2 linked regions of the Homo sapiens genome follow. The protein of the gene in region 1 purifies or fractionates together with the protein of each later gene. This does not show direct contact. Each region holds a gene or a part of one and is shown on either strand. Other genes may lie near its edges.

Region 1 (3,909 bases):
GCTTGAACCCGGGAGCTGGAGGTTGCAATGAGCCGAGATCGTGCCACCACACTCCAGCAATGCAGTGAGGTAGGTTCTATTATTATCTCCATTTACAGGTAAAGAAACTGAGGGTAGAGCATGTAAGTAATTTTCCTGTATGGTTGAACTGGGATTAGAACATTGGTCGCTTAGCTTCAGAGCCCTGTGTGGTTTCCATACTGCTAGATAGAAAGTTAGGTGAACTATTATGGGTGTCAGTTTGCCCGTTTTACATCCGGCTCTCTGCTTCAGGCTTGCCTTAGTCCATATGCATATTTTGATGTATTTGTTTGCTCTTGCTCAAAATTGTGTTATGAAAATTAAGGTGAATACTTAAATGCTATTCTAATCATTATGAAAATTGTTGGGCACCACTTGGACTTTTTTCTTGGATTTACCCTAATAACTTGAGTTGTTTCTGTGGAATTACAGTTGTAGTAAAAGGATGTTTTCATCATAGTGACTTTTTTTCTGCAGCCCAGTTGCAGTATCTTGAATATGAAAGAGAAATCTTGAATTACTGCCTCATTCAAAGCTCTGAATAAGGAACTTTTTTCAGAAGTTTGCTGCAAAATAATTTGCCGACTTGTACTGACAGGAGGCTACTGAATAATCTTTATCTCACTTAATAAATAGTTATGTTCTGTCTTGGAATATTAATTTGTTTGGTTATTGGTGCACTTTAGACCCCATAGGGTCTGTTTGAGTGTAAACGCTGTGTTACTTTTCTAAAATCTGAAAAATTCTTTTTTTTTTTTTTTGATTTTTTTTTTTTTTTTAATTGATCATTCTTGGGTGTTTCTCACAGAGGGGGATTTGGCAGGGTCATAGGACAATAGTGGAGGGAGGGTCAGCAGATAAACAAGTGAACAGAGGTCTCTGGTTTTCCTAGGCAGAGGACCCTGCGGCCTTCCGCAGTGTTTGTGTCCCTGGGTACTTGAGATTAGGGAGTGGTGATGACTCTTAACGAGCATGCTGCCTTCAAGCATCTGTTTAACAAAGCACATCTTGCACCGCCCTTAATCCATTTAACCCTGAGTGGACACAGCACATGTTTCAGAGAGCACAGGGTTGGGGGTAGGGTCACCGATCAACAGGATCCCAAGGCAGAAGAATTTTTCCTAGTACAGAACAAAATGAAAAGTCTCCCGTGTCTACCTCTTTCTACACAGACATGGCAACCATCCGATTTCCCAATCCTTTCCCTGCCTTTCCCCTCTTTCTATTCCACAAAACCGCCATTGTCATCATGGCCCGTTCTCAATGAGCTGTTGGGTACACCTCCCAGACGGGGTGGTGGCCGGGCAGAGGGGCTCCTCACGTCCCAGTAGGGGCGGCTGAGGAGAGGCGCCCCTCACCTCCCGGACCGGGCGGCTGGCCGGGCGGGGGGCTGACCCCCCCACCTCCCTCCCGGACGGGGCGGCTGGCCGGGCGGGGGGCTCACACCCCCACCTCCCTCCCGGACGGGGCGGCTGGCCGGGCGGGGGGCTGAACCCCCCACCTCCCTCCCGGACAGGGCGGCTGGCCGGGCAGGGGGCTGACCCCCCACCTCCCTCCCGGACGGGGCGGCTGGCCGGGCAGAGGGGCTCCTCACTTGCCAGTAGGGGCGGCCGGGCAGAGGCGCCCCTCACCTCCCGGACGGGGCGGCTGGCCGGGCGGGGGGCTGACCCCCCCACCTCCCTCCCGGACGGGGCGGCTGGCCGGGCGGGGGGCTGACCCCCCACCTCCCTCCCGGACGGGGCGGCTGGCCGGGCAGAGGGGCTCCTCACTTCCCAGTAGGGGCGGCCGGGCAGAGGTGCCCCTCACCTCCCGGACGGGGCGGCTGGCCGGGCGGGGGGCTGACCCCCCCACCTCCTTCCCGGACGGGGCAAATCTGAAAAATTCTGAAGCACATTTGTTCTTAAGGATTTTAAGTAAAAGATGAGGACCCCCGTAGTACAGTTTTGGGGAAACACAACAGCATATATAAGTATTTTTATTTTTTGAGATGGAGCCTTGCTCTGTCACCCAGGCTGAAGTGCAGTGGCGTGATCTCGGCTCACTGCAACCTCTGCTTCCCGTGTTCAAACGATTCTCGTGCCTCAGCCTCCTGAGTAGCTAGGAAAACTGGCGCGAGCCACCATGCCTGGCTTATTTTTGTATTTTTAGTAGAGATGGGGTTTCACCATGTTGGCCAGGCTGGTCTCGAACTTCTGACCTCAATTGATCCACCTGCCTCGGCGTCCCAAAGTCCTGGGATTACAGGCGTGAGCCACTGTTCCCTGGCCACAGCAGCATATTTTAATACTTGTTTTTGAGGCTTAGTTTATTTAGTTTTCCTGTGAAACAGTTAAGTAGCCAAATACAAAAATGTAGGCATGCGTTTGAATTTCAGACTTCTGACAGTATTTTCAGAGATAGCATGTGCATGAAAGCATGAAAAGGTTTGCTCTGGCAGTTACACAACCTTAAAGTTCAGTTTAAGTAATTTTTTTTTTGTTTGTTTTGGCATGAAGTCTCGCTCTGTTGCCCAGGCTCCAGTGCAATAGCAAGATCTTGGCTCACTGCAACCTCCACCTCCCAGATTCAAGCAGTTCTCCCACCTCGGCCTCCCAAGTAGCTGGTATTACAGGTGCCTGCCACTACGCCCGGCTAATTTTTGTATTTTTAGTAGAGACAGAGTTTCACCATGTTGGCCAGGCTGGTTTCCAACTCCTGACCTCAAGGGATCTGCCCACCTCGGCCTCCCAAAGTGCTGGGATTACAGCTGTGAGCCACTGTGCCCGGCCCAGTTTAACTAATCTTTATTGAGGTTTTTTTTTGTGTGTTTTCTGCAACACATTTGGGACTTTCAATTTTTAAGGTTGACAGTCGTTTCAGCATGGCTGTTTTGGAATTAGTGGGCTCTTGAATACACCAGAAAGCATAGCACCATTTCACAGCTTGTAAAGTCTGCGGTTTGAAAAATGGAAATAGTTCGTTTATTGGCATATTTGACATGTTAATTGAACGTACCTGTTATCTAAAACATTATTAATGGAATACTTTTGCCTTGATTTCTGCTTAACATGTTTAGCTAAGCGTACTTATAATTAATACCCCTTTTAGTAGTTATTTGTTTTACTCTCTTGGTTTGCAAATTGGCTGAATAAAATGAATATTTCTTCAGACAATTAAGGACAAAAGCTCTGTATGCAATGATAACACGGAGGGCTTAGATTTCCTTGGCATAGTGATTCTTAACCCTGGCTACACATTAGAATCACTTCGGGAACTTTTTTTTTTTTTTTTTGAGATGGAGTCTCGCTCTGTCACCCAAGCTGGAGTGGAGTGGCGCGGTCTCAGCTCACTGCAAGGTCTGCCTCCTGGGTTCACCCCATTCTCCTGCCTCAGCCTCCCGAGTATCTGGGACCACAGGCGCCCACCACCACGCCTGGCTAATTTTTTGTATTTTTAGTAGAGACGGGGTTAGCCAGGATGGTCTTGATCTCCTGACCTCATGATCCGCCTGCCTCAGCCTCCCAAAGTGCTGGGATTACAGGCTTGAGCCACCGCGCCCGGCCCACTTCGGGAACTTTTTAAAACACTTGTACCCATCCCCAGATACTCTGATTTATTTGGTCTGGAGTGGGTGTTATGTACTGGTATTTTTTAAATATCCCTATATGATTCTAAATTGTAGCTATGTTTGAGAAGTGCTGCTTGGAGGAGAGCTTCCTTAGTAATGGTCTTTTGCTGTAGTTGCCATTTTGGGAGGTAGTATATTTGTTTTGCTATGTGCTCTTTGCTAACAACAACAACAAAATCCAAAAAACTAATGTGTTAGCCTTTTTGTTTTACATAGCTAAGAAGCACTTACAGAACAGTAACGTAAAGTTCTGGGAGTTAAAAGCCAGATATTTTTGTCAA
Region 2 (3,909 bases), on another chromosome or scaffold:
GGCGGAGGTTGCAGTGAGCCGAGATCGCGCCACTGCGCTCCAACCTGGGCAATAGAGCAAGACTCTGTCTCAAAAAAAAAAATAAGTTTTCTATGAAAAAATTTCCTGGTCTGGGCCAGTCGCGGTGGCTCACACCTGTAATCCCAGCACTTTGAGAGGCTGAGGCGGGCGGATCACGAGGTCAGGAGTTCAAGACCAGCCTGACCAATATAGCGAAACCCCGTCTCTACTAAAAAATACAAAAAATTAGCGGGGCATGCTAGCGGGCACCCGTAATCCCAGCTACTCGGGAGGCTGAGGCAAGCGAATCGCTTGAACCCGGGAGGCAGAGGTTGCAGTGAGCAGAGATGGCGCCATTGCACTCCAGCCTGGGCGACAGTGCAACGAGACTCCATCTCAAAAAATAAAAAATAAAAATAATCTCCCAGCTCGGCATGGTGGCTCACGCCTGTAATCCCAGCACTTTGGGAGGCCGAAGCAGGTGGATCACCTGAGGTCAGGAGTTCGAGACCAGCCTGGCCAACATGGCAAAACCCCCGTCTCTATAAAAAACACAAAAAGTAGCAGGGCATGGTGGCACGCGCCTGTAATCCCAGCTACTCTGGAGGCTGAGGCAGGAGAATCTCTTGCACCCGGGAGACGGAGGTTGCAGTGAGCCGAGACGCGTCACTGCACTCCAACCTGGGCAACCGTCTCAAAAGTAAATACATAAATAAATAAATAAAATAAGTTTTCTATTAAAAATTCTCCCTTTTAACTTTCGACTTGCCAGGCCAGCCCCAAATCCAGGCCCTCGTCACCTCCCTCTCGGATCCTTGAAGCCACTGCCGGTTTTCTGATTTTGGTCTTTTCACACAAAGGTCCATCCAGGGAATCCTCAGACACAGCTTTTGCCCCACCTCTCCCTGTAATGAGCAGCTTGTTGGATGGAGCCAGCGCTCAACGTCCCCCAGACCTTTCCGCCCCTCTAGCCATTTCCCACATCCCAGCTTCTCAGGTCTTTGCGGAGGCTGTTCCACTCCACGCGCCTGGCCTACTCTTCCTTAAAAGCCCATCTGAACTTTCGCTGATGCTGAGTTTCCTATCCGTTAAATGGTAATAATAATCCCCGCCCCGCTTCCTTGAAAGGATCCAGTGTGGTGATGGCTGGAATAATGCCTTTAATAAACAATTATCAGTGAGTTCTTCAGGAGGAGGCGTGAGCAGTGATCGCAAATCCCGCCTTCCTCCGCCCTCCGCAGCCCTGCAATCTCAACCGCCAGGCGACCCGCCCCTCGAAACGCACCAAGGGTCGAGCCCTGCCCCTCGAGATGTTCTACTTCCAGGCCCCGCCCCTCGAGACACTCTACCTCCGGGTTCTGCCCCTCGAGACGCTCTAACAACCCAGCCCCGCCCCTCGAGACGCGCTAACTCCAGACTCTGCCTCTCGAGGCGCTCTAATAACTAGGCTCGGCGGGTGGAGATGCTCTAACTCCAGGCCCCGCCCCTCGAGCGCCACAACAGCCGGGCCCCACCCCTTGAGGTGCTTTAACGGCCAGGCCCCGCCCTGAAGGCGTTGTAACAACCAGGCTCCGCCCCCAGGCGCTCTAACGGCCAGGCCCAGCCGCTTGAGGCTCCCCAACGGCCAGGCCGCGCCCCCGCGTGCGTGCGCGGCCCGGCAGAGCCGTGCGGGCGCCCGCGTACTCACTAGCTGAGGTGGCAGTGGTTCCACCAACATGGAGCTCTCGCAGATGTCGGAGCTCATGGGGCTGTCGGTGTTGCTTGGGCTGCTGGCCCTGATGGCGACGGCGGCGGTAGCGCGGGGGTGGCTGCGCGCGGGGGAGGAGAGGAGCGGCCGGCCCGCCTGTAAGTGGGGCCGGGTCGGGTGGGGGCGGCCCGCGGTGTCCCGGCTCCCGGCCTCCTCGTGGTCCGACCTGCGGTTTGGGCCCGCGGCTGGTGGGGCCCGGCGACTCCATGGGCCTCAGTTTCTCCTCTGGTAACGTGAGCTTCGCTTCCAGAGACGGGGACCCGCCTTGCCGGGTTAGGCGCACCTCCTGGGGCGGGACTGGCTCCAACCTGGGCCCCTTACTGCGGCTTTCTCTGTGGCCGAGGCCAGGCCGTCCCCGGGGTGGCCAGGAGAGCACCGTAAACTCTTCAGCCTGCTCCGTGGCCGCGATCTCGGAAAAAGCACCAATTCTGTGATGTGCAGCAGCATTTACTGGGCATCTATGACCCTGTGATAGGCTTTGGGGTCTTTTTCTGTAAGGAGTCCAGTAAAGGAGAAGTACATCTGTATTATGAACACCTAAATATGTAAGTGAAAAACACGGTGAAATAAGTTTCACTGAGGCCAGGCGAAGTGGCTCACGCCTGTATTCCCAGCACTTTGGGAGGCCGAGGCAGGGAGATCGCTTGAGCCCAGGAGTTTGGGACCAGCCTGAGCAACATAGCAAGACCCCATCTCTACGCAAAATTAGCTGGGTGTGGTTGTGCACGCCCCTGTAGTCCCAGCTCCATGGGAGGCCGAGGCAGGAGGGTGTCGTGAGTCCAGGAATTCAAGGCTGCAGTGAGTTGTGATAGATCGCGCCACTGTACTTCAGCCTGGGTGACGGCAAGAGCCTGTCTCTGAAAAGTTTCATAGAAGAGGTTAGTACTAGAAATGGGAAACACCAGAGAGTCAGTGGGCAGCCCTGCTCTTTTTATTTATTTTTCAGACAGAGTTTCGCTCTTCTTGCCCAGGCTGGAGTGCAGTGGCACAATCTTGGCTCGTTGCAACTTCCGCCTGCCAGGTTCAAGCGATTCTTCTGCCTCTGCCTCCCGAGTAGCTGGGACTACAGGCACACACCACCACGCCTGGCTAATTTTTGTATATTTAGTAGACGGGGTTTCGCCACGTTGGTCAGGCTGGTCTCGAACGCCTGATCTCAGGTGATCCACTCGTCCTGGCCTCCAAAAGTGCTGAGATTACAGGCGTGAACCACTGTGCCCGGCCAGCCCTGCATTTTTTTTTTTTTTTTTTTTGCAGGGGGACGGAGTTTTGCTCTGTCGCCCAATCTGGAGTCTAGTGGCGGGATCTCGGCTCACTGCAAGCTCCGCCTCTGGGTTCACGCCATTCTCCTGCCTCAGCCTCCTGAGTAGCTGGGACTACAGGCGTCCGACACCACACCCGGCTAATTTTTTGTATTTTTTGAGTAGAGACGGGGTTTCACTGTGTTAGCCAGGATGGTCTCAATCTCCTAACCTCTTGTGATCCACCTGCCTCGGCCTCCCAAAGTGCTGGGATTACAGGCGTGAGCCACCCTGCCTGGCCGAGTCCTGTTCTTTTATGGGGGAGGTGGTTGTTAGGGAAATCATTACTGAGAATAGGGGGCACATGAGGTAGTGTGGGGTCTCAAAGGATGGTTCTAGAAGAAGAGTTTGCCAGAAGGCCAAGGAAAAAAGACATTCCTGCCAATGGCAATACCCGAGAAGGCAAGGAGTCCCCAAACAGCATTTGGTATGACTTAAGTGTGAGGAGGGGGGCTTGTTAGACATGCCTGGAGAGAAGGAAGCAGAGGACAGATTGTGGCTGTGTTTGTTTGCAGGGCCCAGGAGCTTTTTTCCTGTTGGAATTGGGGAGCATCTGCAGTCATTTACCACATGCCAGCTTTGTGACTCAATTAAGTATCTTTTACAAAAGTGACTGGCTCCACTCCCCCGCACAGGACTCAACAGATGTTGACTTCTCATCCCCGAGTTCTTTCAGGTACTGGAGTGCAGTGGTGCGATCTTGGCTTACTGCAACCTCTACCTCCTGGGTTCAAGTGATTCTCCTGCCTCAGCCTCCTGAGTAGCTGGGATTACAGGCGCCTGCCACCACGCCCGGCTAATTTTTGTATTTTTAGTAGAGACGGGGTTTCACCATGTTGGCCAGACTGGTGGAACTCCTGG

Evidence for each region.
Region 2: the proteins of SEC63 (region 1) and TBL2 purify together in Homo sapiens (affinity purification with mass spectrometry; 2 studies listed by BioGRID and IntAct, with this or other methods). This does not show direct contact.

What each region holds. Positions count from the first base shown.
Region 1 is NC_000006.12:107,951,356-107,955,264, reverse strand, and holds part of SEC63 (translocation protein SEC63 homolog), read left to right. Parts: intron 1-3,909. UniProt on the Homo sapiens protein: Mediates cotranslational and post-translational transport of certain precursor polypeptides across endoplasmic reticulum (ER). Proposed to play an auxiliary role in recognition of precursors with short and apolar signal peptides.
Region 2 is NC_000007.14:73,576,356-73,580,264, reverse strand, and holds the start of TBL2 (transducin beta-like protein 2), read left to right. Parts: upstream 1-1,685; 5' UTR 1,686-1,715; coding exon 1,716-1,845; exon of another isoform or gene 1,846-1,953; coding exon of another isoform or gene 1,954-1,975; exon of another isoform or gene 1,976-2,292; intron 2,293-3,563; exon of another isoform or gene 3,564-3,693; coding exon of another isoform or gene 3,694-3,724; intron 3,725-3,909.